2 linked regions of the Homo sapiens genome follow. The main gene of each other region encodes a partner of the protein of the gene in region 2 in a complex. Each region holds a gene or a part of one and is shown on either strand. Other genes may lie near its edges.

Evidence for each region.
Region 1: DDX46 (region 2) and SF3A1 share a complex: the UniProt entries of both Homo sapiens proteins name them as parts of the 17S U2 SnRNP complex.

The regions. Positions count from the first base shown.
Region 1 is NC_000022.11:30,335,350-30,350,567, forward strand, and holds part of SF3A1 (splicing factor 3A subunit 1), read right to left. Parts: intron 11,171-15,218; coding exon 10,963-11,170; intron 9,842-10,962; coding exon 9,584-9,841; intron 7,531-9,583; coding exon 7,456-7,530; intron 7,002-7,455; coding exon 6,851-7,001; intron 6,537-6,850; coding exon 6,343-6,536; intron 5,464-6,342; coding exon 5,346-5,463; intron 5,033-5,345; coding exon 4,847-5,032; intron 3,903-4,846; coding exon 3,781-3,902; intron 3,686-3,780; coding exon 3,440-3,685; intron 2,549-3,439; coding exon 2,341-2,548; intron 1,832-2,340; coding exon 1,677-1,831; intron 405-1,676; coding exon 303-404; intron 190-302; coding exon 118-189; intron 1-117. UniProt on the Homo sapiens protein: Component of the 17S U2 SnRNP complex of the spliceosome, a large ribonucleoprotein complex that removes introns from transcribed pre-mRNAs.
Region 2 is NC_000005.10:134,761,615-134,776,832, reverse strand, and holds part of DDX46 (probable ATP-dependent RNA helicase DDX46), read right to left. Parts: intron 12,930-15,218; coding exon 12,741-12,929; intron 9,917-12,740; coding exon 9,773-9,916; intron 5,931-9,772; coding exon 5,834-5,930; intron 3,138-5,833; coding exon 2,972-3,137; intron 1-2,971. UniProt on the Homo sapiens protein: Component of the 17S U2 SnRNP complex of the spliceosome, a large ribonucleoprotein complex that removes introns from transcribed pre-mRNAs.

The sequences.
Region 1 (15,218 bases), on a different chromosome or scaffold from region 2:
AGATGGCCACACCCAGATATCACTCCACTCCCCTTTTAGCTTCCATGACAGATTTAGCTTCTGTGAAAGCAGAGGTGTCAGGACCCAAGGGACAGGTCTGTGGACAAACTGACTCACCTCATACTGTAGCTTCTGTTTCCCTGCAGGCATGCCTGTGGCTTCATGAATCTTCACCTTAATGACAGAGACCTGTGGGATCAAGCAGCGGTCATTCAACTCCTTGGTAAGGCCAGCTAGAGGAAGCTTTCCCCTGAATGCTTGGTTCCCATGCACCTGATGCCAGTTTCTGGCAGTACCCATACCTGGTCCGTGAGTGGGAGGGTGAAGACCAGCACCTGCCCATTCAGTTTCCATTCCGTCTTATCCTGCATGTTGGGCACCTGGACTTTGATGGACACTGGACCCTACAAAACAGGAGGTGGTCATTATGCCTAGGGAGCTCGGAGCCAATCAAGAACTATGCTCTGCTATCCCTAGGCCTGTCCAGACAATGTCACCTGTGCATCTGGGCTCCTGGATTCTGGCCTGATTCACCACTGATAACCCCTTGTGAGGTTGTACAAGTCACCCCCCTTTGCAAGATTAGGTTTCTTTTCTTTAAAACAATCTCTATCTTGTCTCTTGGTGAGTCTGGAGCTAAACTGAAGAACTTTAGTGAAAATACTCTGCACACCCCAAGGGAAAAGAATATGACCTGCAGGGTCGGAAGACCTGGATTCCCAACTCAGCTTCCCAGCTAACAAGGTTTGTCTGAGCCTCAATGTCATTATCCACCAGACAGGGTTCATGACTGTTTTGAGTATTGAGGGGAAGTGTCTGTAAAGTGCTTAGCTCTATCCTGGTACTTAAGCGTTTAAGAAATGGGAACTATTATTAAAAAACAAACAGAGCGGGTGCAGTGGCTCACACCTGTAATCCCAGCACTTTGGGAGGCCAGCGTGGTGGATCACTTACGGCCAGGAGTTCAAGACAAGCCTGGCCAACGTGGCGAAACCCCATCTCTACTAAAATACTAAAAATACAAAAATTAGCTGGGTGTGTGGTGCACACCTGTAATCCCAGCTACTCCGGAGGTTGAGGCATAACAATCACTTGAACCCGGGAGGCAGAGGTTGCAAAAACAAAACGAAACAATTTGGTCAAATACATTGGGGGAGCAGAGGCCGGGGCTGTTTCTGTCTCCTTACTGCAGCCTGACAGCTTCCCTAGTGATTAGCAGTGACAAGGTCCCCACCTCCCCTTATTCCAGGACCCCAACAGGATCCCACCCAACAGGCAGACCTCCTAAGGGCTAGAGCTGGGGAGGAAGGCCACAGTAAATTTTAAAACACCACACACAATTTCCTCCAGGTGTCTAGGGTCCCTCTCACACGTGAGTTGTGCTGCCCGTGCTGCTGGGTCTCCCTGTTGGCCTCTGTAAGTCTACACCAGAGGGACCACCACAGTCACCACCTCTGCCACCACTACCATCACCATCACCACCAATGCTCTCTGCTCCTCCAATTGTTGGCCCCACATTCACTGTGTGCTCAGAAGCCCTTAGATGCCTCCAACAGCTGACCTAGGCCCCAGAAGCCAAGACTGGGAGTGAAATAGGGTCAGTTTCGCAAGTGTACGACAGGGGCGGGACTGAACCCTCCAGCTAGAAACTTCAGCAGCATTCTGGGATTACATACCTTGTTTCTGCGCAGGAACTCCTCCTCTGGCATGAGGCTGTCCTCTGTCTTCAGTTTTTTGGAGGTGGGCTCATCTTCCATGGGAGGTGGGGGATGCACAGGGGGCATTGGGGCTGGAGCTGGGACAGGTGCCACAGGTGGAGCAGGCACAAAGGCTGCAAAGACAAGAATAAGCAGCCCCATGAGAGGGCAGAAGGGGCCCAGGACTCAGGGCTGATGAGAAGTTGAGAGGGAAGGTTGCAAAGGTTTCCTCTAGTCAGAGGTGTCAAGTGCTGTTCCCTGCTAAGTCTGGCAGCCAGCAGGTTCCCTGGCAAGGGGACCTGGGAGGCTGCCCAGATTGGACAGCAGAGGACTGCAGGAGGGGCAGGACTGATGGATGGAGCTAGTGCCAAGCAACAAGCATTTCTCAGGCCTCTGAGCCTGTTGGGGACCTGATCCCTGAATGCACAGACACTGGCTACACCATTTCAGCCTCTCATTTCTACCAGGAACGGTGGCTCCCAGCTCTAGGGTTGCGGATCTTTCAATGGGAAGCCAGGGCTCTCCTCTGGGCTGGATACCCTGCTGGAACAGCTGGCACTAGCATCAGCCACTGCTCTGCTGACAGTACTTGGCCCGTGGTCCCTGAACTAATGGCCTGGAAAATGATGCAAGAGATACTGACCTGTTGGCACAATCATGGGGGGTGGGCGGGGGGCCATAATAGGAGGGGCCGAGGGAGGCATGGGCACCACGTTGATTCTGGGCGCGTGGATGATGGGCGGCATGGGGGCGATCACTGAGCCTGGGGGCAGCCGGACCACAGATGCCATTGGGGGCCGGGGCATGACGGGTACTGCGGAGACAACTGTAGTACGAACTGGAGGTGGCATCTGTGCAGGAAAGAGACCCACAGATTACAGGAAGCCAAAGTTGGACTCCAAGGTCACACACAGTTGGCAACTGGCTGCCTGCAGCTCTGAGGATGGAGGTTAGACAACTACGTCCTGGCCCCCTGGGACTGAGAAACTGTGGCCTACACTGGGCGTCCAATAGGAACTGAGCTGCTGAGAGCCCGAGGATGACACTCTCTCTACTTGGGACTTGGCGGGTCAAACTCGACCTGCTACTTTGGCAAACACTGAAAGAGTCACTAAAGAGGCTGAGACCTTGGCCAGGCACAGTGGCTCATGCCTGTAATCTCAGCACTTTGGGAAGCTAAGGCAGGCAGATCACCGGAGGTCGGGAGTTCGAGACCAGCCTGACCAACACGGAGAAACCTCATCTCTACTAAAAATACAAAATTAGCTGGGCATGGTGGCGCATCCCTGTAATCCCAGCTACTTGGGAGGCTGAGGCACGAGAATCACTTGAACTCGGGAGGCGGAGGTTGCGGTGAGCCAAGATCATGCCATTGCACTCCAGCCTGGGCGACAAGAGCAAAACTTCATCTCAAAAAAAAAAAAAAAAGAGGCCGAGACCTCGACTAAGTCTCTCCTGGAGACAAGCCAACAGTCCTCAAAGACCCAATAAGCCCTGCAGCCCTTCTCTGACGCCAACTGGTTTCTCATATTTGCCACTTACCTCCCTCCCTGTTCCAACCCTCCTCCACAAACAGATCAAGAGAGAGGTTCCCACTTGCATTTAAAGGGCTCTTTCTCTTTCAAACTGACCCACCCAACACTCAGGCCCCACTAAAAGGCAGCTGCACTTCTCAGCCAACAGTGTCCGACCTCAAGAATGAAGCTCTAAAAAAGTCAGTTCCAGGGTAGATGCTGGCTTACTGTGGGTGGTCGGGGCACTGAAGTGATGGGTGGAGCCGAGCTGGGGATGTTGGTGGCTGAAGATGGTGGCGGTGGCTGTTGAGGGATTTCATTGGGCTTGCTGGGGCCAATCTTCTCTTTAGTGTCATCCTCTGGCACCAGGCCTTTGGCCTTGTGAATGGCCTCAATCTGCTCCTGGAGGGTGATGTTGGCCTGGGCAGCCTGCTGGGTCCGGGCCATGCTGCCTGAGTGGCCATCCCAGGTCACCTGCAAGTGAAAGCAAAGCCACAATGCTTCTGGAACTAAGACCAAGTATGGAAGACGGGGGGCAGAGAAGGCACTAGGTTCCACTTTAGCCGCACCTTTTCCTCTGGCTTCTGGATCTCCTCCTCACCGATCTTCTTACCAATGGCTGTTTCCTCTACACCGAAGATGTCAGTACGCCGCTCAGCCAACTGCTTCAAGCTGCTCTCAATATCCAGACCTGTACAGTCACAAAACAGAGGCAGAGGATAGAAAGAGAAAATAAACCAGGTGTCCTGACAAGAGAGCAGCTTTTCTGGTGTGCAGGGAGGAGGCTGGTTCCATGGGATGAGGGTGACTCAGGGCCCCAACTCTTGTCCTCTGGGCTCGGGGAAAGCTGCCCGATCTAAGCCTATAAACCCAGTGCTTGGGCAACCCCTCTGACTTAGAAAAGAACGGTAGGCCAGGCACAGTGGCTCATGCTTGTAATCCCAGCACTTTGGGGGGCCAAGGCAGGAGGATCACATCTGAGGTCAGGAGTTCGAGACCAGCATGGCCAACATAGCGAAACCCCGTCTCTACTGAAAATACAAAAATTAGCCGGGTGTGGTGGTGCGTGCCTGTAATCCCAGCTACTTGGGAGGCTGAGGCAGAAGAACTGCTTGAACGTGAGAGGCGGAAGTTGCAGTAGCCAACATGGAGCCACTGCACTCCAGCCTGGGAGACAGAGTGAAACTCCGTCATTCATAAATAAAACACATAAATAAATAAGATGGTGAGTTAGAGAGGGCAACTGTGTGGAAAGGGCCACATGGTGTAAGTGGCAGAGTCAAAACTAGAAGCCCAGTCTCCCACCTGTGGCACAGTTCCTGCCCCATTCCAAAGAGCTCATGGTACTCCAGCCATCAATGCTCTCCTTCTAAACAGCCACAGGAAGCCCTTCCAGCTAAAGCCAGAGCTTGCTCTGGGATGTCAACAGGCACATGGCATCTCCTTCAGTGTCTGCCTTTGGGGAATTTCTATGGGGAGTTCTTCTGGAAAGTGGGGAGTTCTCTTGCAATATCATAGAGTGCAACTCTCCTCAAAAGCTTTTGTTGACCTCAATTGTTGCTTTCTATGTTTGCTTAGAAGAAGATGGCTGTAATTCGGAGACTACCATGGGCTCTCCTGGAACCCCCACCTCACCTGGTGCGTACACCTCATCATCGCTCTGCTTCTCACGGATGGAGCGATCCCGCTGCTCCAGCCAGCGAGGGTCAAGAAGTCCAATGCGCATGTGTTCCTGCATTTTGCTGGCGGGGATCTTCTCCCCAGTAATGGGGGACACAAGATACTCATCTGGAGCAGGGGCTGGAGGCAAGGGCTTGGAGGCTAAAAGGAAACAGATGTTTCAGTAAGAACACTGGTGGGCAGCCACCTGAGTTAAGAGGGTGGTATTTCATGCGTGCATCATTCATCAAGGCATCTATTCAGTGCCACTCTTGTACCTGGCACTGTGAAAGGCACTAGGGCACCAGAGATGACTGGGCCCTGTTCCCACCATGAAACCTGTAACAGACGGGCTTGCAATGCTTTTACAATAAGCTGCACCTCAAGCCCTCCTAGAAAGACGGGTGTGAGGAACACATGAGGGCACACAGGACTTCCTGGGCAGCCCGAGGGTTGGGAAGCAGGCCCTCCCTACCTTTGGGATCATAATCCTTGCGGACAATGACTTGGTCTGGAGTTGGGGGCAGAGGTGGAGGCATGGGTGTCTCTGGGGGTGGGGGCACTTTCTGCCCTTCTTCTTCATCATCTGAACCCTGAAAAGCAAAGCAATGGCAGGACTCAGAGAGGGGCTGAGGCCACCTCCCTGTAGCTGAGCCTGGCAGGTCTCTGGGTGGCAAGGAGCCTTGGCCTCTGCCAGCCAGCGTCCATGTGCTAAGCCTCCCAGGGCAGCTGAGGCCAGCCGGCAGCAGGCCAAGCTGCTTCCTCACAGCATGAATGGGAGTGCTGAGGCCACGGTCCTAGCACTCCTCCCAGGCATTTCCAGCAGCTGGCACCAGGCAGTCCCAAGAGGCCAAGGGCACTTAACATGCCGGGGGGGGACAGTGCCAAGGGGGCGAGGGGTGGGGGCGGCGAGTCGCCAATCAATGGTAGCTGCTCACACAGCAATGCTGGGAGGGAGAGAAAAAGTCATTTCCCACAGACAGGGGCCCTTTCTTCTCAGGCTGTGCACAAATTATTTCCGAGTGGGGGAGAACAGTCTGGTTCTGGAGACTCCATGCCTGCTTAGAGGGCCTGGCTTGAAGGGGGTAGGGATGCCTGAAAGGAAGCGTGGGCTACATTTAGAAAAGCTCTGGGAGCTTGGAGCCCAGCTGAGAGCTCAAAACAGAACAGGGTAATGCAGTGAGTTCCCTGAGGGCTGGCACGAGGCAGTGAGAGCAGGCTGTCCGGGCCAGGGAGGCGGCCACAGAACAGGTCAGCACAGCTTTTAGATCCTTGCCTATGAATGAATCTTTGTTGCCGGAGCTGGAAAGAGGCTCTGTGCTGCCTGGACTTGGGCAGCTGTATGGCCTTGTTCAGGACCCACGCCTCCTTTCAAGGCTCACAGGGGAGCTGGATCTGACTGGTGGAGAGCACTTCGACCTCCTGGGGCTTCAGGGGAAAAGGTCATCCTGCAGGCCTGCCCAGCAGCTTACCTCATCCATATCTTGTACTTGGGTGTCCTGGTCCAGCTGGGAAGGAGGCTCCTCCGCCTTCTCCTGTTTGTCATCCTCCTCATCAGACTCGACCTCCATCTCAACTTCCTCACTCTCCCCAAACTTTTCATAGCGCTCCTGAATGAGGATTCGGGCCCCCAGCTCCTCTGGCGTGGTGGGGGGAGGGAAGTTCCCTAGAGGGTGAGCCAGAGGCAAAGGTATTCCTTATCAAAGACCCACCTATTTGCCCTGTCTGAGCTCCCCAAGGGCTGGGGCCATGTCTGTTTTCTCTCCAGCTATCTCCAGAGGCCCATCTAGGGTCTGGCAAGTACGTATTGAATCTAAGTTGGGCAAAGTGGTAGAACTGAAGTCTTTTGGGAGCAGGGAGGAGACAGCACTGATAAAGCCCTCTGAGAGATTCTACTGCTCTCTGGGAACACCTGCACCAGGTTTCCCGGGAAGTCTGAGTTCCTGGCTCCCCATCTGGAGTCACTCCTCACAGACCTACCTTGCTCATTGGGTTGGAAGTCCACTGTTTCCACCACCACAAAATCATGCCAGTCGATCTGAGCATAGGCCACCCGCTCCTTCTCCTTCTCCTCTTCTTCCTTCTTCCTCTCACGTTCCTGGAATTTGGCCCATTCCACTCGGTAACACACCTGCAGAGATGGGAAACAGCTTGGTGCTACGCTGAAGCAGGGTCTGCTCCTGATGAGGCTACCACCTCCAGGGCTTTCATCAAAGTCAGCGCCTCCTTCGGAACAGAATGGAAGTATGGTTCCAAACTATGGCATTTGCACCTGGTTCCACCCAGGTGCAGAGTTGGGACAGAATGAAAATTCCACCCTCTGATCTGCTTGGGAGCTGGCCTTCTGTCTTCTAGCTAGAGTGGAAAAGAGGGAGATATATTGAGGCTGAGAGCAAAGCAGAAAGTTGTGGTATGTTGGGAAGCATCCGGACTCCAGGTTTCTTTGGCCTTTGTAGCCAACAAAGCCTTTTCTCCCACCATTCCCATGACTGGAACATAACAAGGTCCTGCCTCAGAGACTGTTTTCAGACATAAAACAGAACCAACCACCAGTAACTGGTTGCAAGAAATGCTATTCAGTTTACCTGATCCAAAACTTCTCGGGGGTTTTCAGCCTCTTTCTTGAGCTTTGAAAATAAACCTTTGGGTGGAATCAAGATCTGAAATACAGAAGAGTTAAAGCAACTGTCAGTGCTTTACAACGCAGTACAAAGAGGCAGCCTTCCTGGGCCTGTGATAAAGCACAGGAGATGAGGAAGCATGGGATTCTGTGTCCCAATCCCAGCTCCACTTGGCTGTGGGACTTAGGGCAAGTTACTTAACCTCAGTAACTTGATTTCCTTCTCCAAAATAATGGCACCACCACTCAAAGTTGGCACCATGAACTTAAAAAGGTGGCTTCGAGGATTAGCAGGAAAGCATGCAAAGCACTAGCCGATTACCCAGAACACGGTCAGTATGAGACGGCTGCTTTCATGACACTGACCTGCTCTCATCCTTTCAAAAACACTACGCAGGTCCCCCCTGACTATCCTATTCAGAACCGCAGCGTACTTGCCCCACCTCCCTCTATTTCTGCTCCCTGCTTTCTCTCTGTAGTATTTAGCACCATGTAACAGACACTGACAATGCACTTGACTCCTCCTCACTAGACTAGAAACTCCATGAAGACAGGGATTTCTCTTTTGTTCACGATTACATCTCCAGCCCCCTGAATAATGTCTGACAATGTATACTTACTGAGAGAACAAATGCTGCCTTTGTTCTAAACAGCCCCAACAGCTTCTACTGCCACTGGCAAAGTGGCTCGGCCCTATCCCAATCCTCCTTCCACCTCTACCCCAAGAATCTATCTGCTCAGTCTTCCATGGCTAGAACAGACAGCAGGAACCTCAAGTTACAGTGGTAAATGCCAATACCCAAGTTCTGAAGAAAAAACAGGAAAGTAACAGAATAAAAAGTGATCTGGGACCTTTAACCCTGGAAGCAGTCCACTGGGAGAAATTAATCCAGGGTTCATTTAAAATTGATATTGCATATTTATAGAAACCCTTGGGCCTTGGGCCTTGAATGACTGTTATTTTAGCTACCATACTAGCTTCTGGATTTGGTCATTTTCTAAACACACACATTGTTAAAATTCTAATTATGTACTTAAAAGTGAGTAGAGTTAGGAAATTCTCAAGTCCTTTCAAGTCAGATCTTTGAGGTGTTGTTTCTGGATATGAAGAAGAGATGTACAGACCATCCCACTGTAAAGGGAAGGAAAACAACCTCCATGACATGTGTAGCAAGAAAAATGTGCCACAGGCAAAGCTGTCAGTGCACTTTGCAATAAATTAATAATCTGATTATTTTAAATGCCAGAACTGACTTGTCCTGATTCTTGATTGCAGCTCTGTCAAATGATAATTGAGTTCTTAGGGTCTGGAGTAAAAATGCCAGAGCTCAAGCCCCAGCCCTGCCACCTCCTAGCTATGTGACCCTGGCCATGCTAACTTCACTGCACCTCAATTTTCTCTTCTGTAAAGTGAACATAGCAATAGTGGCTACCTTATAGGCTACCGGAGATTAAATGAGAAGATGCTGCATACATAATTTCTTAGTGATGTTAGTTATACTGACTTACATGACATCAAAGTGTCTCTCAACACCTATTTAAATGCTGTTTCCAATTTAAGGCACTTTATAAGCTGAAGAACCAAAGTTTTAGGGTCAAATGTGGTTTAAATCTCAGCATAGTACTTACTAGCTGACAGACCTTGAGTACGTGACTTCACCTTTCTGAGCCTGTTTCTGCTTCTCAAACATGGGGGGAAAACACCTCATGGCTTCTTGTGAGGACTAAGTTAGGTAAAAGGAGGCAACTCTTAAAGGTTGGCTTCTTCTCAGGGCCTTACTAGGCAACTGAAAACGGAAATGCACTTAAAAGCAGCAAGCACCACGTGGCCTTGTCACATAGCAGGCAATCGCCTAATGGTAGTTAGCAAGCATGTATTTCCCTTCTCTTTAGAAACCGGCAGTCTGTGTTGCACTTAAAGAAATAACTGAATAGAAATCAAGGTTTTACATTAAACTGGGATTCAAAACATTTGCTCAGAGGCCCCATGGAGAAGCGATGTCCTTGTAGACAGTGAGTGGACACAGTGCTTCCAAGCATAAGATGTTTTCCTTTCCTGGGCCCAGGACCCCAGCCCCATCCTGCCCAGGCACCTTGGTGTACTGTTCCACTAGCTTCGTGAAGTAGTTGAAGAGGCTGTGCTGTGGGCGGAGAAAGTCAAACTGGTAGTTGCGCTGCTCTTTCTGCATCAGCTGGGTCAGAAACTGGCGCCCATTCCTGGCCACAAACTGAGCCGTCAGCTTCACCACATCCAAGTCGAAGGCTGAGATAGAGGGAGGATCAGCAATGAACTCAAACTCAGGAGGAGGCTCTTTGGGCACGATGGTCTCTTGGATTACTTGGGCTTGGACCTAAGATGCAAAGGGAGTATGAGGCGAGAGGCACAGGGGTGAACAGGCTCCAGGGGAGGGGAGGGGAGGGGACATGGGCATGCACCCCTCAGCAGGATGCTGTGAACCTCTAGACTTCTGTTAATTATGCACACACCACTAGCACTTGGTGTGAGAGAATTCTAAATCACAAGAGCATTGACTTCCCAGCCAACTATGGCCTCAACTTCCTGAATGGCTGAGTGAGAACCATTCCCCTCTGTATCTCTGCTCCTGCCTTGAAATTGAGGGCCAAAACTGGGTGACAGAAGATCCAACAAGAATAGGACTTATTAAATCCCATCCAAGAGGGATGGATGTGCAGAAGGCCTACATGTGTGCAGAAAACCCCACTGTACAAAGTGTTTCCATGACCTCCGCATGAACGATGAGGTAGCACAGGTACTGTGAATCCTCTTTACAGATGAAGAAACTGAGGTAGCCTGAGGTCCTAGGCCTCATTGCAACGCAAGGTCTTAGAACCTGACTTCAACCTTTATAGCCCACTGCAAAAGGAGGGACTGCCTTTTCCACCATGGTTCAGGAGTGCAGAAGGCAGGTCTGGACAGGAGGAAAAACATGTCAGCCTCTCTCTTCATTCATAATCCTAATAGTCCCTAGTGCTGGGCCTCAGCACAGGGAAGGTGGTATCAGGGGAGGCCAGGATGGAGGGGTCCTGGGAAGAAGAGATAGAAGGGAAGGGATGGCACAAGGAGGAGCCCACAGGCCACACTGCATCCTTCAGCACAGCCAAGTAGGAAGTGCTGCCCTCACATCACGGCACTGCCCTCACACCCTGAGCAAGGCCTTGAATAAATCACACGTCCCCCAACTCTCAGGTTCCTCATACAGCCTCTGTGAGGAGTCAATGAGACAAGACTCCTGAAGTACCAAGCACAGAGCTTGACAAGCAGTGCTCGGGAAATGCCAACTAACATCAGTACTTTGCTGTCTGGGCCTCGGTCTGCCTCTGAGAGATGGGGATAACGACCTCACTTCTCTCCCTGGGTGGTTGTGAGATTTGGAGTTAATTGTGTACTCCCTCCCTATCCCTGTTTCCCTCTCAAGCCCTGCGTAAGTGAAGGGGGCACTGGGCTCCAAACCTTCTGGGGCAGCTGCTGCTGGGTGGTCTGCTGCTGCTGCTGCATGACCTTGGGGATGGCGGCGGACGGCTCCTGAGCCTTCCCTTCCTTGAACTCGCTGACCTTGTGGCGGTAGTAGGCATGGTAAGGGTCATTGGGGTTCAGAAAGTTGAACTTGGGGTTGTTGATCTCGTTCTGTCGGATCCTAGCTTCAAATTCAGGCCCGTTTCTGGAGGAAGAAAAAACAACAAGAATAAACACCACTCCCTTGTGCCTGCTGTGATCTAGAACACTGCCCATTGGAACGTCCTTCTTGCCACCACCCACTGCTCAAACCAGCCCATCCCTCAGCAGACGTCCTCCTCTAGCTTCCTGGCATTGGCGATCAGTGCCATCTGCCTCATTCAGCTTGAACCAGGCCACCTCTGCCACAGGGTTTCCCTGAACCCAGTCATTCCTTAGCTCCTTTTCCAGTTCTGCCATTTCCAAAACCATCTAGGCTATCGCTCATTTCTTTTAATAAAATTTACTTTAAAAAAAATCTATTTAAGATGGAGAATACATATTACTACTTCAAATAAAAAAAAATCAGTATGCCTTTACCAACAAAAGGTAGTCAAAAGTGAACATAATGAAAACAAAGTAATACTGTCAAAGTTTAGCTGGAAGTTTGCTGAGACTAATTCTCTTAGTTCAAAGGGGTAGCAAGTGCTGGAGAGGTGTAAAAGGTACATGAGCACCAAACCTAGACTTTGTCCTCTGAGTAACAAGAAAGACTGAAAGACATGAAAATTTAGTTGATTTGAGCCTGGGCAACAAGAAAAGACCCTAACTCTACAAAAAAATATAAAAATAAATTAACTGGGCATGGTGGTGTGTGCCTCTAGTCCCAGCTACTCAGGAGGCTGAGGTGGGAGGATCACTTGTGCCCAGGAGTCTGAGGCTGCAGTGGGCTAGAATCGTGTCACCGTATTCCAGCCTGGAAAACAGAGCAAGACCCTGTCTTTAAGAAACAAACAAACAAACAAAAAACAAATAGTTGGTTTAACGCCTTGTCCAAGTACTCCCTAAAACCACCCCCATTATACTGGTGAGGCCCACACAGGAAACATCCTCAGCAAAAACCCAGACTCGTACAGCTGTATAAGGCACCTTCAGATGACAGGGGTGTGGTAAGATCAGCAGGGAGGTCTCCAACCACTGTCTGTACCTGGGATGGTTCCCCAGATATGCCCCATGTCCCCAGCAAGCCTTCAAAACCTCAGGATAATGAAAAAATGTCCCTATAATGATGTTTAGGGAACCCTGATTTTTAAAATGTCCCAACAGTAATATTCAAAGTGCCACACTTATATACAACACCTGTGTCAGTCAGAAAGTACACGGACCTTAAAGACACAAGATATGAACACGTTCAAGTCTCAGGTTCACTGCTGACTCACTCTGACCCACAGCAAGTTACCAAACTACTCTTTGCTTCCATTTCCCCATGTGTAAAATGCAGCTAACACCAGTTTCCCTTTCTACCTTGAAACATTATTGAGGAGATGCCAAAGTGTTTTTGTTTTATAGACAGGGTCTCACTCTGTCACCCAGGCTGGAGTGCAGTGGTACAATCTCAGCTCACTGCAACCTCCACCTCCTGGGCTCAAGGGATCCTCCCACCTCAGCCTCCTGAGTAGCTGGGACTACAGGCATATACCACCATGCTCGGCTAATTTTTTTTTTACATTTTGTAGAGACGGGGTTTCACCATGTTGCTCAGGCTGGTCTCAAACTCCTGCGCTTAAGCGCCTTGGCCTCCCAAAGTGATAGGATTATAGGCGTGAGCCACTGAACCCAGCCCTCAAAGTCTTTTCAAATCGTACAGTGGCCTGCAAATGCAAGGGGCTAGGAGGGGTTGTTCCATAAACATTGTCTGTGGGGCCTTCCATTGCTCCTCTGGCGAGAACCTTGTACTTAGAACTGCCCCAAACACACCAAGGCATGGCCCCGGCATCTGGTGCCAGCTAGCCAGCTCCACTCTTCAGACTTTCATATCCCTGGCCTGTGAGTTTAAGAGGGGGTGGGAGCCCGGCACAGTGGCGCACACTTGTAGTCCCAGCTACTCAGGAGGCTGAGGCGAGAGGATCACTTGAGCCCAGAAGATCATACCCAAGCCTGGGCAACAAAATGAAATTTCACCTCTGAAAACAAAAATTTTTTAAATTTTTTTTAAGACAGATGGCAGGAGACAGGGTACAGGCAGTGCTGTGCCCCAGATCAACCACCACAGCAATTATGTGCCACACTAGTGATCGACACCCAGGCTGGCTCCTCAGCAAGTCGTGGTCATACCCTGCCGTGTAACTAACACCATGAGGTCTCAATTTGACAGTATATTAGTCTAACTGGAACCTCATGCTTTGGAAAAAAAATTCTCCCTACTCCTTAAATAATGCAAACCACACATAAGAATGAAGGTGAATGCACACTTAAATCCTGCTAAACTAGGCCACTATACCCAGCAAATGCCTCGGGCAGACAAAGGGCTCCTGGAAAAAGGGGCCCTGGTTGTCTCCTGTACCACTGCCTAAGCCATAACTTTACCCCATCTGGGAACAATCTGAAAAATAAAACAATGAGAAGGCTTGGCATGTTCATTCCAAGCTATTCAGTTGCTTTAAATTAGCTTAACGTTAATTTTAGAATCATACTCTCCACCAGAAGGAATAGATTTCAACAGAAAAAGACATGATTCTGACTCAACCCAGCTGGTGGGACTTTTTAAGGGTAATTTCCACTTCAGTTTCTTGACAGGAACATGCAGGAAATGAAAAGGCCTAACCTAGCGAAAAAACTTTTGGAAAACCGCTCAGTTGTGCATTTCTACTGCATGCTCCATAAATATACGTGAACCCAGGAGAAGTGAAGCACAGAGTTCTGCATGCCTGCTTTAACTCGGATATTGGTCTCTTTGTTGCAATGTAAACGATAAGTTCACAGATTTTATTTATTTATTTACTTTTGAGGCGGAGTCTCGCTCCGTCACCCAGGTGGGAGTGCAGTGGCACAATCTTGGCTCACTGCAACCTCTGCCTCCCGGGTTCAAACGATTCTTCTGCCTCAGCCTCCCAAGTAGCTGGGACTACAGGCGCCCGCCACCACACCTGGCTAATTTTTTGTATTTTTAGTAGAGACGAGGTTTCACTATGCTGGCCAGGCTGGTCTTGAACTCCTGACCTCAGGTGATCTGCCCACCTCAGTTTCCCAAAGTGCTGGGATTACAGGTGTAAGCCACCACACTGGCTCACAGATTTTAGAAATGCCTACAAAAGCAATCACCATAGCTAAAAATCAATCTAGGGATGTGCATGGTTTTGGATTTTTTTCTTTCTTTTTTTTTTTTTTTTTGAGATAGGGTCTTGCTCTATCGCCCCAGGCTGGAGTACGCTGGCATGATCATACCCTTGACCTCTCAGGCTCAAGTGATCCTCCCAAGTGGCTAGAAATACAGATATGCGCCACCATGCCCAGCTAATTTTTTTATTTTTTGTAGAGACAGGGGTCTCACTATATTGCCTACACTGGTGTCCAAGTCCTGGGTTCAAGCGATCCTCCCACCCTGGCCTCCCAAAGTGCTGGGATTACAGGCGTGAGCCACCTAACCTGGTCATATATATTTAAAGGGACCTTGGATATCCTCTTATTTCTTTAGCAGCAGAGGATGGCACAAAATTATTGGAAAGCTACTTGGCAAAATGTTTAAGAAATCTTTTAAGGATGCTCTTTTAGCCAATAATGAGCCACACAGAATTTTCTTCTAAGGAAACGATCTAAAAGGGAAAGAAAATGCTCAGAGATTTCCCCACAGCTTAATTTGCCAAAATGAAATGTTGGGAACAGGCCAGGTGCGGTGGTCACTGCCTGTAATCCCAGCCACCTTGTGGTGGCTGAGACATGAGGATCACTTGAGGCCAGGAGTTCAAGACCAACCTGAGCAACACAGAAAGACCCCATCTATACAAAAAAACTAAAAAAAATAAAAAAAATAAAAAAAAAATTAGCTGGGTGTGGTGGCAGGCACCTGTAGTCCTAGCTACTCAGGAAGCTGAGGTGGGAGGATAACTTGAGCCCAGGAGTTCAAGGCTGCAGTGAGCTGTTATCATGCCACTGCACTCCTGCCTGCGTGTCAGAACGAGACTCTGTCTCTAAAAAAGAAATGTTGGAAACCTCCTCCTCTAAGGAAAATACAGAAATGGTGGCCAAGTCAAGGAAAGCCTTTCACCTCTACATGG
Region 2 (15,218 bases):
CAAGCGATTCTCCTGCCTCAGCCTCCTGAGTAGCTGGGATTACAGGCGTGCGCCACCATACTCAGCTAATTTTTGTATTTAGTAGAGACGGGGTTTCACCATGTTTGTCAGGCTGGTCTCGAACTCCTGACCTTGTGATCCACCCACCTCAGCCTCCCAAAGTGTTGGGATTACAGGCGTGAGCCACTGCACCCAGCTAAATGACATTTTCAATTACAGTTGATCCCTGAACAACATAGGTTTGAACTGCATGGGTCCACATGGAAGCAAATTTTCTTCCACCTTTGCCACCCCAGAGACAAGACCAACTCCTCCTCCTCTTCTTCCTTCTCAGCCTACTCAATGTGAAGACAACAAGGATGAAGACCTTTAAGATGATCTACTTCAACTTAATGGACAGTAAGTATATTTTTGCTTTCTCGTAATTCTTTTTTTTTTTTTCTAGACAGTCTCACTCTGTTGCCAGGCTGGAGTGCAGTGGCACCATCTCGGCTCACTGACGGCAACCTTCACCTCCCAGGTTCAAGTGATTCTTCTGCCTCAGCCTCCCGAGTAGCTGGGACTACAGGTGTGCGCCACCACACCAAGCTAATTTTTGTATTTTTAGTAGAGACGGAGTTTCACCATGTTGGCCAGGATGATCTTGATCTCTTGACCTTGTGAACCACCTGCCTCAGCCTCCCAAAGCGCTGGGATTACAGGCATGCACCAGCGCGCCCAGCCTCTAATTCTCTTAATAACATTCTTTTCTCCCGCTTACCATATTAAAATAATACAGTATTCAATACATAAAGCATACAAAGTATGTGTTATTCAACTGTTCATGTTATTGGTGAACAGTAAGCAGGTAATGCTTAGTTTCTGGGGAGTAAAAAGTTACATATGGATATTTCACTGTGTGGGGGTTGGTGTGCTTAGCTACCAAGTTGTTCAAGGGTCAACTGTATTTTTCTTTCAATTACCTTTCAATCACAGAAGATAGCATATCTCAGTTATGTAAAAAAGATTAGATTGTCTAGAATTAAGACATCACGACTACTTGGCTGGGCGTAATGGCTCACACTTGTAATCCCACTGCTTTGGGAGGCCGAGGCAGGTGGATCACGAGGTCAGGCGTTTGAGACTAGCCTGGCCAACATAGTGAAACCCCATCTCTACTAAAAATAGGCCAAGGCGGGCGGATCACAAGGTTAGGAGTTTGACACCAACCTGGCCAGTGTGGTGAAACCTCGTCTCTACTAAAAATACAAAAAAATTAGCTGGGCGTGGTGGTGTACACCTGTAATCCCAGCTACTCAGGAGGCTGAGGCAGAGAATTTCTTGAACCTGGGAGGTGGAGGTTGCAGTGAGCCGAGATCACGGCACTGCACTCAAGCGTAGGCAACAGAGCGAAAAAAAAAAGACATCATGACTACTTATAGATAGAATCTATTTAAACCATTCTTTGGAACTTTCACAGACAATGGACCAAAATCCCATTTTCCTATAAAATTCTACAATCTCCTACTTTACTAAAATCTCGAAAGTCAAAATCAGATGTGAAGGGAAATGTTTCCATCCTAAATTATGAAATATCAGCAGCCAGGCACAGTGGCTCCTGCCTGTAATCCCAACACTGAGAAAGGTCAAAGCAGCAGGCTCTCTTGACCCCAGGAGCTCAAGACTAGCTGGGTAACATATCGAGACCCTGGCTCTTCAAAAAATGACAAAATTAGCTGGGCATGGTGGCTCACGCCTGTAATCCCAGCACTATGGGAGGCCAAAGTGGGAGGATCACCTGAGGTCAGGAGTTCAAGACCGGCCTGGCCAACATATTTTTGTACTAAAAATACAAAAATTATCCAGGCATGGTGGCAGGTGCCTGTAATCCTGACTACTTGAAAAGCTGAGGCGCAAGAGAATAGCTTGAACCTGGGAGGCGGAGACTGCAGTGCCGCCTGGGTGACAGAGCAAGACTCTGTCAAAAAAGAAAAAAGAAAAAGACAAAATTAGCCAGGCATGGTGGCTACTCTGGAAGCTGAGGCAGAAAAATCACTTGAGCCCAGGACGTCGAGGCTGCAGTGAACTATGACTGTGCCACTGCACTCCAGCCTAGGCAAGAGAATGAAACTCTATCTCCAAAAACATGAAAAAGAAAAGAAAAATCAGAGGAGGCACTTGAAAGCATGCCCTTAATTTACTCTCCTTACTAACGTTCACATTGGTATAATATATTAAAGAACTATTTACTGGCTATGCCCAATAACACTCAATGATTCATTCTAAAGTAAAATCAGTGATGCTTACTAAACACAATTCTATATTTCAAATTACAACATAAATATTAAAAGGAGCTTTTACAATCTCAATTCCACTTCTGGGTATATAGTTCACAGAACTCAATACAGAGACTCAAACAGATATTTATACACCAATGGTCACAGGAGCATTACTCACGATAACAAAAGGGTGGAAACAACCAAATTATCCAATGGCAGGTGAATGAACAAACAAAACTTGGCATATATATACAGTGAAATATTATTCAGCCATATAAAGAAAGGAAATTCCAACATGCTACAACATACATGCACCTTGAAGACATTATGCTAAGTGAAATAAGCCAGACACAAAAAGACAAATATGTATTATGATTCCACTTATGTGAGGTAGCTAGACTAAACAAATTCAGAGACAGAAAATAGAGCAAAGGTCACAAGAAGTAGCGAGAAAAGGCGTCATAGAGTTATTTAAAAGGTGCAGAGTTTCTGTATGGAATGACGAAAAAGTCATGGAAACAGACAGTGGTAACGACTGCACAACACTGCAAATGTATTTATCACTGAATTGAAACCTGAAAATGATGAAAATGGTAAACAGCATATTATGCATAGTTTTCAACAATAAAAAAGATTAAAAACCCCTTATGAAATATTATTCATATAATATTCTACATGAGGTGTTATACAGGCTATTAGGCTAAAAAATATACCATCATCGTCCTCTAAACTCCACTTTTTCCCTTGTTTCATCTCTTCGATTTCCTTTTTCAGTTCTCCTATGTTTTCCATAGCCTTTTTACGTTGCTCTTCTCGCCATTTTTCTACTCTTTCTTTTCGCTTTCTCATTTCTTCTTCCAGCTTATTCTGGTCAAAGTTCTTGGGGGAATAAAAGAAAGAAAGAGATGGGGGAAAATAAAAAGCAAAACCAAATTTAATAATTTTGCTCCAAGTGACATTCCAGTAAGTTCTTCAAAGTATAAAGAAGGGGAAAAAAGGCATATATACAAACCCCTCAGGGTAGACTTAGATCACATACCTTTATAAATATACACACAAATATATTACCAAAATGAAATCACAAAAAAAGCATCTTCAAATAAGAAAGCCAAAAGATAGATTTCAAACACTATAAATCAATCTCATTTTACTTACAAGCATTATGCACACATAAACTTTATTTCTTCCTAACAACAGAAACTAAAGTAATTAGCAAGCAAAGTTTCCCAGTTATTCTCAATTTTAATCCCCTAAACGCCTCCAAAATTGCCTCTATGAAAAGCAATTTTCTATTACAAGTTAGAAAATAAACGACATCAACATGATAAAGAAATTTTATGGCCAGGCACATGGTACATGTCTGTGGTCCCAGCTACCTGGGAAGCTGAGGCTAGAGGATCCCTTGAGCACAGGAGGTTGAGATCAGCCTCAGCAACAAAGGGAGACTCTGTGTTATTAAAAAAATACAAGTTTATGGCCAGGCATGGTGGCTTACACCTGTAATCCCAGCACTGTGGGAAGCTGAGGCTGGAGGATCCCTTGAGGTCAGGAGTTGGAAACCACCCTGGCCAACATGGTGAAACCCTGTCTCTACTAAAAACACAAAAATTAGCTGGGCATGGTTCCCCATTCCTGTAGTTCCTCCTTCAGGAGGCTGAAGCAGGAGAATTGCTTCGACTCAGGAGGCAGAGGTTGCAGCGAGCTGAGATCACGCCATTGTACTCCGGCCTCAGCAACAAGAGCAGAACTCCGTCTCAAAAAAATGAATAGGCCAGATACGGTGGCTCATGCTTGTAATTCCAGTGCTTTGGGAGGCAGAGGCAGGCAGATTGCCTGAGGTCAGGAGTTCAAGACCAGTCTGGCCAACAGGGGGAAACCCCATTTCTACGAAAAATACCAAAAAATTAGCTGGGCGTGGTGGCATGCACCTGTAATCCCAGCTACTCAGGAGGCTGAGGCAGGGGAACTGCTTGAACTCCCAAATTCCTGGGATTACAGGCATGAGCCACAGCACCTGGCCTCATGTCTAAATTCTTAAGTCTACATTTTTTTTTTCCAGACAGAGTCTCGCAGTCACCAGGCTGGAGTGCATTGGCGGGATCTCAGCTCACTGCAATCTCCAAGTCCGGGGTTCAAGCCATTCTCCTATCTCAGCCTCCCGAGTAGCTGGGATTACAGGCACATACAACCACACCCAGCTAATTTTTGTATTTTTAGTAGAGACAGGGTTTCACCATGGTGGCCAAGATGATCTCAATCTCTTGACCTCGTGATCTACCCACCTTGGCCTCCCGAACTGCTGAGATTACAGGCACGAGCCACCATGCCTGGCCTTCACATTTGAGACAGAGTTTCGCTCTTGTTGCCCAGGCTGGAGTGCAATGGTGTGATTTTTGGCTCACTGCAACCTCTGCCTCCCAGGTTCAAGTGATTCTCCTGCCTCAGTCTCCCAAGTAGCTGGGATTACAGGCATGCGCCATCACGCCTGGCTAATTTTTGTATTTTTAGTAGTGACGGGGTTTTACCATGTTGGTCAGGCTGGTCTCGAACTCCTGACCTCAGATGATCCACCTGCCTTGGCCTCCCAAAGTGGTGAGATTACAGGCACGAGCCACTGTGCCCAGCCTTAAGTCGAAATTTATACAAATTTTTTGGAAGGCAATTGATAATGTTTATATGGTAAGACTGCACTTTGTATGTAAAAACAGATATTGCGTATAGATGTGCAACTTCTTTTAGAAAATTTTCCCACAGGGGTAAATATTATTTAATCTTCCTTTTTTATCTTTCACATCTGGTTATTTTAAAATAAAGCTTACAGCATTAAAAAGAAAAAAATTTGTTGGCATAGAAACAAGTTTGTTTTGATTTTTGAGACAGAGTCTTGCTCTGTCACCCAGGCTGGAGTACAGTGGCCCAATCTCGGCTCACTGCAAGCTCTGCCTCCCGGGTTCACACCATTCTCCTGGCTTAGCCTCCCAAGTAGCTGGGACTACAGGCGCCTGCCACCACGCCTAGCTAATCTTTTTTTTTTTTTTGTATTTTTAGTAGAGACAGGGTTTCACCATGTTAGCCAGGATAGCTTTGATCTCCTGACCTCATGATCCACCCGCCTCGGCCTCCCAAAGTGCTGGGATTACAGGCGTGAGCCACCGTGCCTGGCCCATAGAAACAAGTTTGATGGCCAGGCACGGTGGCTCACACCTGTAATCTCAGCACTTTGGGGGTCCGAGGCAGGGGGATCACAAGGTCAGGAGTTCAAGACCAGCCTGGCCAACACAGTGAAACCCCATCTCTACTAAAAATACAAAAATTAGCTGGGCATGGTGGCGCATGCCTATAGTCCCAACTACTTGGGAGGCTGAGGCAGGAGAATTGCTTGAACTCAGGAGCCGAGAATGTGCCACTGCACTCCAGCCTGGGCAACAGAGACAGACAGAAAGAAAGACAGAAAGAAAGACAGACAGAAAAGAAAGAAAGAAAGAGAAAGAAAGAAAGAAAGAGGGAAAGAAAGAAAAGAAAGAAAGAAAGACAAAAAGAAAGAAAGAAAATTATTTTTAAGTTAATAAACATACGCCAGCATCTTTTTCTTTTTCATCCTCCTTGTCATCTTTGTCTTTTTTCTTCTCTTTAGAACTTTCCCCACCATCAGTTTTCTCTTTGGACCTAGATCTACCAAAAAAATAAAAGAGACAAGAGAAATGTCATTCATTTGTACTTAGAAACATTCATTTTTAAATACTTTTTTTTTTTTTTTTGAGACAGTGTCTCACTCTGTCGCCCAGACTGGAGTGGAGTGAAATGGTGCGATCTCAGCTCACTGCAACCTCCACCTCCCGGGTTCAAGCGATTCTCCTGTCACAGACTCCCGAATAGCTGAGATTACAGGTGCCAGCCACCACACTCATATAATTTTTGTATTTTTAGTAGAGACAGGTTTTCACCATGTTGGCCAGGCTGGTCCTGAACTTCTAACCTCAGGTGATCTGCCCACCTCAGCCTCTCAATGTGCTGGGATTATAGGCATGAGCCACCTCGCCCGGCCTTAAAATACTTTTACAGGTGGGGTAAGGTGCCTCACACTTATATACCCAGCACTTTGGGAAGCCAAGGCAGGAGGATCAATTGAAAACAGGAGTTAAAGAGATCAGCCAGGGGAACATAACAAGATCCAATCTTTCCAAAATATACTAAGAATTAGCTGGGTATGGTGGTGTGCACCTGCAGTCCTACCTACTGAGGAGGCAGAAACAAGACGATCACTTGAGCCCAGTAGTTCGAGGCTGCAGTCAGCTATGATCCCATCACTGCACTCAAGCTTGGGTGACAAAGTGAGACCCTGTCTCTTTTTAAAAAAAAAAAAAAAAAAAAAAAATTTGGTCAGGCATAGTGGCTCATGCCTGTAAGCTCAGTATTTTGGGAGGCCAAGGCAGGAAGATCACTTGAGCCCAGGAGTTCGAGACCAGCCAGGATAATACAGTGAGACCTCGTCTCTATTAAATTAAAACAAAAAATACATAAGTACACTTATTAGACTTGTATTCCAATATTTAGGTAAGAAATAAACTTCTAAGAGTCAACTGTGTTTTCATATTCCATTAACAAACACCTGGAGGCTGGGCATGGTGGCTCATGCCTCTAATCTCAGCACTTTGAGAGGCCAAGGCAGGCAGATCACGAGGTCAGGAGATCGAGACCATCCTGGCCAATATGGTGAAACCCCAACTCGGCCGGGCGCGGTGGCTCACGCCTGTAATCCCAGCACTCTGTGAGGCCGAGGCAGGTGGATCACATGAGGTTAGGAGTTCTAGACCAGCCTGACCAACATGGTGAAACCCTGTCTCTACTAAAAGTACAAAAATTAGCCGGGCTTGGTGGCAGGCGCCTGTAATCCCAGCTACTCAGGGGTGGGAGGCCGAGGCAGGAGAATCACTTGAACTCGGGAGGCGGAGGTTGCAGTGAGCCGAGATTGCACCATTGCCCACCAGCCTGGGAGACAAGAGCAAAACTTCACCTCAAAAAAAAAAAAAAAACAAACAAAAAAAACAAACCCCGTCTCTACTAAAAAATACAAAAATCAGCTGGGTATGGTGGCACGTGCCTGTAATCTCAGCTATTCAGGAGGCTGAGGCAGGAGAATAGCCTGAACCAGGGAGTCAGAGGTTGCAATGAGCTGATATTGCACAACTACATTCCAGCCTGACGACAGAGCAAGATTCTGCCTCAAAAAAAAAAAAAAAAAAAAAACCTTGAAAATATAACGAAAAAAATTAATCCCATGACACTAATGGGAAGCATTACTAAATATTTGGAAATTCAACCCAAGAAAAACTGAACATACTACATACAAACAATATAGTTTGTTTATAGGTAGGATAGTTAAAATGTGATAAATGAAGAAACAGACCAATATATTAATATTCTGCAAGATAATTTATATATGTAATAACGTTTAAAATCCCAAGGGACATGCATTTCGAATGTTCTAATGTTCTAATGATTTTAGGGGATTTTTTTGAGACGGAGTCTCTCTCTGTCGGCCAGGCTGGAGTGCAGTGGCGCAATCTCGGCTCACTGCAACCTCCACCTCCCGGCTTCAAGTGATTCTCCTGCCTCAGCCTCCCGAGTAGCTGGGATCACAGGTGTGTGCCACCACACCTGACTAATTTTTTACTTTTAGTAAAGACGAGGTTTCACCATGTTGGTCAGACTGGTCTCAAACTCCTGACCTCGTGATCCATCCACCTCGGCCTCCCAAAGTGCTAGGATTACAGGCGTGAGCCACTTCACCCAGACTTCTAATGATTTTTTAATGTTAAAATAACCTGCCATTCTTGGAATAAACCCAACTTGTTTACGCACCCCAACTTACGGCATCTCATAATGAATAAAATTTCTTAATTTTAATGTAATCAAATTAGTCAACCTTTTTTCTCCTTTATAATTGGTGCTTTTTAAAGTAGTTTAGAAATCCTTCCAGATTTGATGTAAGATACCTAGAGGTGAAGAAGAAGATACTCTCTGGCACAAACTTCTAAAAGGTTTAGAATTTTGCCATCTAATTTGGTCTTTGCTTGGAATTGCTTTTTGTACACAGAATAAGGTAGGCAGTCTTATTTCATAAAAGGATACTAGATATCCCTAGAGCAATTTAAAAATTTTTCTGGCCAGGCACGGTGGCTCACGCCTTTAATCCCAGCACTTTGGGAGGCCGAGGCGGGTGGATCACGAGATCAGGAGATCGAGACCATTCTGGCTAACACGGTGAAACCCCATCTCTACTAAAAAATACAAAAAATTAGCTGGGCATGTTGGCACACACCTGCAGTCCCAGCTACTCGGGAGGCTGAGGCAAGAGAATTACTTGAACCCGGGAGGCGAAGGTTGCAGTGAGCCGAGATTGCACCACTGCATTCCAGCCAGGGCAACAGAACGAGACTTTGGCTGTTAAAAAAAAAAAAAAAATCTTCACTTATTACATCATCACCTCTGTCATCTATCAAATTACCATGTGTATGGATGCCTTTCTGGGCTCTTTACATGGTTCACTAATCTGTCTGTCCACTGCTAAACAAATTGCACATTGTCTTAATTTCTGTTAACTTTTTTTTGTTTTTTTTTTTTGAGAAGGAGTTTCACTCTTGTTGCCCAGGCTGGAGTGCAACGGCATGATCTCACCTCACCGCAACCTCTGCCTCCTGGGTTCAAGCGATTCTCCGGCCTCAGCCTCCAGAGTAGCTGGGATTACAGGCATACGCCACCACGCCCAGCTAATTTTGTATTTTTAGTAGAGACGGGGTTTATCCACAATGGTCAGGCTGGTCGCCAACTCCCAACCTCAGGTGATCCGCCCACCTTGGCCTCCCAAAGTGCAAGGATTACAGGCGTCAGCCACCGCGCCTGGCCTAATTTCTTAACTTTTAAGACAAGTCTTGGCTGGGCGCGGTGGCTCAGGCCTGTAATCCCAGCACTTTGGGAAGCCGAGGTGGGCAGATCACTTGAGGTCAGGAGTTCGAGACCAGCCTGGCAAACATGCCAAAACCCCATCTCCACTAAAAACATAAAAATTAGCTGGGATATTATGTCTGCCTCTTCATATAATCCCAGGACTTTTGGAGGCCTAGGTGAGAGGATTGCTTGAGTCTACAAGTTTAAGGTTAGTGAGCTATGTTCTTGCCACTTCACTCCAGCCTGGGCAACAGAGTGAGACCCTGCCTGAAAAGAAAATGACAGAGTTTCTACAAAGATGTCTATAAAATACATTTCTGATTGACAGTTATGTATTAAGTAAGAATACAATGTATTGAATGTTAAAACTGACAGAATCTATTATTTTCCAGTTGAATTATAAACATTATAGCCAATTAAAATAAAACACTGCCAACAGTTCATGGTAGGAGCCAAATGCAGTTAATTCTCTATAAATACAAACTTACAGGGAAAAAAAAAAAAGGCGCAGAGAAGGGAAGCAGTCCCCAGTCTGCACTATAGATGCAGCCCAATGATAACATTACCTATTCTCAGTTTTCTTGCTTTTATTTCCAGGACTGGAGGATCGGGATCGCCGGCCCCGGCTTCTACTCCTTGAGCGTCTCCTGTCTCTACTTCGAGATCTTCTTCGCTCTCGGCTTCTGTCTCTCTCTCTACTTCTGGAACGTCTGAAAGGGGGACACTTTTCATTTATTCTATGACCAAATGGAGCTACTATTTCAGATCAGGGGATTCTGTCCCACATTGAAAGAATCTTAATCACTACCATTATTAAAGGTGGAGGTCTCAATGAAGTAAAGCCAAGTCTTATAAGTGCTCAACGAAAAAAATGAGAATACTAATTTATTTCTTTCATTTTTTTAAAGACAAAGTCTCACACCTGTCACCCAGGCTGGAGTGCAGTGGCACAATTGCAGCTCACTGCAACCTCTGCCTTCTGGGTTCAAGTGATTCTCCTGCCTCAGCCTCCCCAGCAGCTGGGATTACAGATGTGCATCACCATGCCCGGCTAATTTTTTTTTTTTTTTTGGAGACAGAGTTTTGCTCTTGTTGCCCAGGCTGGAGTGCAATGGCGCAATCTCAGCTCACCACAACCTCCATCTCCTGGGTTAAAGCGATTCTCTTGCCTCAGCCTCCTGAGTAGCTGGGATTACAGGCATGCACCACCATGCCCAGCCAATTTTGTATTTTTACAGATGGGGTTTCTCCATGTTGGTCAGGCTGGTCTCGAACTCCCAACCGCAGGTGATCTGCCTGCCTCAGCCTCCCAAAGTGCTGGGATTACAGGCGTGAGCCACCATGCCAGGCCAGAGAATACTAATTTCATAAAGATGTTTGTGAAAAAACCATAATAAGTCTGTAATTAACATCGATTGAAAATCGATGGTCTAAGATAGAATATCTAGTTTCAGATAGCCTAAACCTAAGTATAAGGATGGGCATAATGGGTCTACTAAAAGATCACTAATCTGAAGATGAAGAGGCAAGAATTTCTATCCTGCTACTCCTGGTAACTAATGACATGATGAAGGTCAGATCTCCAACTTTCTGGGTCTCAGTTTCATCATCTATAAAATATGGAGACTTCACTAGACATCTTTAAAATCCCTCTTGCTCTAAAATCTTGTGATTCTACTTTCACACCCAAAAGTCAAAGACCAAATGTTAAATAACCATTTTCACTTAAGTACTTGAATTAATTGTGTGAAATTGTTCCTAGGACCACAAAATGTGAAAATGCTATCCACATTGTCACGGGTGAATATTTTCCCTGAATCCTACGTAACAACAATGTACTCCAATGTCTGAAAAGGATAAAGTTAAATTCTTTCTATGATCCACTCACAACACAATCTTGTCTTCCTTTCCTATTTTAATGAGAAACTGGGCAAGGTATGGTATCTCATACCTGTAGTCCCAACCCTTTGGGAGGCCACTAGCAACACAGTTAAGACCCCCATCTCTATGAAAAGCTTTTTTTAATTGGCTGGGTGTGGTGTGCACAGAAGATTATTTTCTTTTTTTCTGTTTTGAGATGGAGTCCTGATCTGTCGCCCAGGCTGGAGTACAGTGGCACCATGTCGGCTCACTACAACCTCCACCTCCCAGGTTCAAGCAAGTCTCCTGCCTCAGCTTCCCGAGCAGCTGGGTTTACAGGCATGCACCACCACACCTGGCTAATTTTTTTTTTTTTTTTTTTTTTAGTAGAGACGGGGTTTCACCATGTTGGCCAGGCTGGTCTCAAACTCCTGACCTCGTGATTCACCCACCTTGGCCTCCCAAAGTGCTGGGATTACAGGCATGAGCCACCATACCTGGCCAACTTTGTCACTATTAAAAATACAAAAATTATCCAGGCTTTGTGGAGCATGCCTGTAATCCCAGTTACTCAAGAGGCTGAGGCATGAGAATCACTTGAACCCGGGAGGCAGAGGTTCCAGTGAGCCTAGATCGTGCCACTGCACTCCAGCCTGGGTGACAGAGTGAGACTCTGTCTCAAAAAAAAAATAAATTAAAAAAAAAAAAAAGATTAAGGCGCTCTTTAGTTTAAATCTATGACAGCTCATTAAAATAGTTTAAGAGGCTTGGAGAGGGTCTGCTTTGTTTCCTTTTTCTGCCTGCTTTAGAGGCTGCTCTAAACACACTGTTTAGCAAAATGAAGAAAGAAAGAGAAAGAGAGAAAGAGTGAGGGAGGAAGGGAGAGAGAGTGGAAGGGAAGGAGATAGGGAGGAAGGAAGAGAGAGATGGAGGAAGGGAGGGAGGGAAGGAGGGAGAGAGGAAGGAAATTTTACAAATTTCAACAAGGGTGGCAAAAAAAAAAGGAAAGAAAATTAACACCTTGGTCAGCTCTCCTGGAGCAGAATTGGAATAGAACCCTCTTGAATATAACTTATTACTTTACTTTTTACTTCATTTTGTATGTCCCTCAGAGGGCTTCAAGGGATGTCTTTGGGTTACAGGAAATACAGCCTAAAGTTTCCAAACTAAAAACACTGTTTGATGGTCGGACACGGTGGCTCACACATGTAATCCCAGCACTTTGGGAGGCCAAGGTGGGAGGATCACATGAGGCCAGGAGATCGAGAGCAGCCTGGCCAACATGGCAAAACACCGTCTCTTTTAAAGACACAAAAATTAGACAGGTGTGGTGGTGCACATCTGAAATCCCAGCTACTTGGCAGGCTTAGGCATGAGAATCGCTTGAACCCAGGAGGTGGAGGTTGCAGTGAGCAGAGATGATACCACTGCACTCCAGTCTGAGCAACAGAGTGAGGCTCTGTCTCAAAAAAGATTAAAAAAAAAAAAAAACACTGTTTGATAGAGTCTTTGTAGGCACATCCTTCTGGGTCTAATCAAACAAGTAGGGGATAAAGAAAAGGGCCTGCAATTGGGCCACCAAACTCCAGTTGAAAACATACTTTTCAAGAAGCCTGCTATAGCCGAGAAGGCCCAATTTATCACTCGTCTTTTGGAAATTAATTAATGTCTTACCTCAGACGCTTCCTGTCCCTTGACCGAGATCTTCTTTTATCCCTGCTACGAGACCTCTCTCTCCTCCTATCTCTATCTCTACTTCTAGACCGTCTGTCATCTCCACGTTTACTTCTTTTGTCTGAGGGTGAGCGACTTCTAGACCGACTTCCAGAGCGACCCCGGGATGCCGATCGTTTTCGATAGTGGCTAGAACAATAAGTCAAAGATTAAGTTCAGCAAACACCATTAGCTTCTATTACATTTTATTACATTTTTTCTAAAAATAATTTCAGCAGACAAATTTAACACTCAAAGAACTTTTTATGAATTTTTCTAAAATTAGGAGGGAAAAAATGAACCCTTCTGCTTCAGCACAGACACATGTAGAGGTGGAAAATCTGTCTTGAAAGAGAGGCAAGGACAGTGAACAAAACAGACCAAGCTCCTGCCTTTGAGCTCCAGGCAGCTTACACTCCGGTAAAGGAAAAGACGGCAGACAAGTGAAGAAACAAACACTGTATATAGTATGTTTATATACAATATAAATATGACATTTGTTACAGAGGCTTGGAGGAAATAAAGGAGCCATGTAGATATACAGGGAATTTTCCACGCAAAAGGCACAAGTGCAAAGTCCCTAAAGAGGAAGCTTGACTGGTGAGTTTAAGGAACAGCAAGGATGCCAGTTGTGGCTAGTGTTGAAAGAGTGACACAGCGTGCCATAAGACGAGGTCAGAAAAACAGCAGGGAAGCCAAACCTGGAAGGCCTTACTGGCCATTATATAAGGACTCTGTCTTTTACACCAAGATGAAAATCTACTGGAAGACTTTAAGCAGAGGAGTGACACAACCTCATTAATGTTTTTATTTTTATTTTTAGAAACAGGCCTCACTCTATTATCCAGGATAGAGTGCAGTGATGTGCTCACAGTTCACTGCAACTTCAACTCTCTGAGGCTCAAGCAATCCTCCCACTTCAGCCTCCCAAGAAGCCGGAACTTCAGGCATGCGTCACCACACTTAGCTAATTATTATTATTATTTTTTTTTTTTGAGAAAGAGTCTGGCTCTGTTGCCTAGGCTGGAGTGCAGTGGCACAATCTCAGCTCACTGCAAGCTCCACCTCCCGGGTTCACACCATTCTCCTGCCTCAGCCTCCCGAGTAGCTAGGACTATAGGCGTCCGCCATTACGCCAGGCTAAATTTTTTTTGCATTTTTAGAAGAGATGGGGTTTCACCATGTTAGCCAGGATGGTCTCGATCTCCTGACCTCGTGATCCACCTGCCTCAGCCTCCCAAAGTGCTGGGATTACAGGCTTGGGCCACTGCGCCCGGCCACTCAGCTAATTATTTTTATTTTATTTTATTTATTTTTTTTGAGACAGAGTCGCACTCTTGTTGCCCAGGCTGGAATGCAATAGCACCATCTCAGCTCACTGCAACCTCTGCCTCCCAGGTTCAAGCAATCCTCCTACCTCAGCCTCCCAAGCAGCTGGGATTACAGGCCTATACTACCACGCCCAGCCAGTTTCGTATCTTTAGTAGATGAGGCAGTTTCACCACATTGGTCAGGCTGGTCTGGAACTCCTGACCTCAGGTGATCTACCTGCCTCAGCCTCCCAAAGTGCTGGGATGGATTACAGGCATGAGCCACCGCATGCAGCCTTTTTATCATTTTTTTAAATTTCTTTTTTGAGACAAGGTCTCACTCTGTCACCCAGGCTGGAATGCAGCAGCTCAATTGCTACTCACTGTAACCTCAACCTACTGGGCCCCAGCAATCCTTCCACCTCAATCTCCAGAGTAGCTGAGACCAAAGGCACACACCACCGCGCCCACCAATTTTTTTTTTTTTTTTTTTTGGGTAGAGATGGTGTCTCACTATGTTGCTCAGGATTGTCTTAACCTCCCGGCCTCAAGCATCTTCCCACCTCAGCCTCCCAAGTAGCTGGGACCAAAAGCATAAAAGCGTGTGCCACTATGCCCACCTATTTATTTCTTTTTATTTTTCATTTTTGTAGAGATGGAGTCTTGCTATGTTGCTCAGGATGGTCTCAAACTCCTGGGCTCAAGCAATCCTTCCACTTAATGTAATCCCAAAATGCTGGGATTACAGGTGTGAGCCACTGCACCTGGCCTAATGTTTTTAAAGTATTATTCTGGTTGCTGAGAGAACAAACCAAACAAAGGGAGGCAAGGACAAAAGGAGAAAGAATAGGCAGGATTAGCAAAGACCAGCACTATAGCAATCATCCAGGCATGAGATAGTGGTGGCATAGATCAAAATGGAAGGTGGAAAGATTTTGAGAAATATCAAAATCTGGATATCTTGAAGCTAGCACCGATGGGATTTAATGATGAACTAAATGTCAAGTGTGACAGCAAGAGAGAAATCACTCAGTTGCCATTTACCAAGATGGGAAGGCTGAGGGAGAAATCCAGGGAGAAGGTGGATCAGAATATTAGGTATCCAAGTGGAGATATATAGTATATAGTT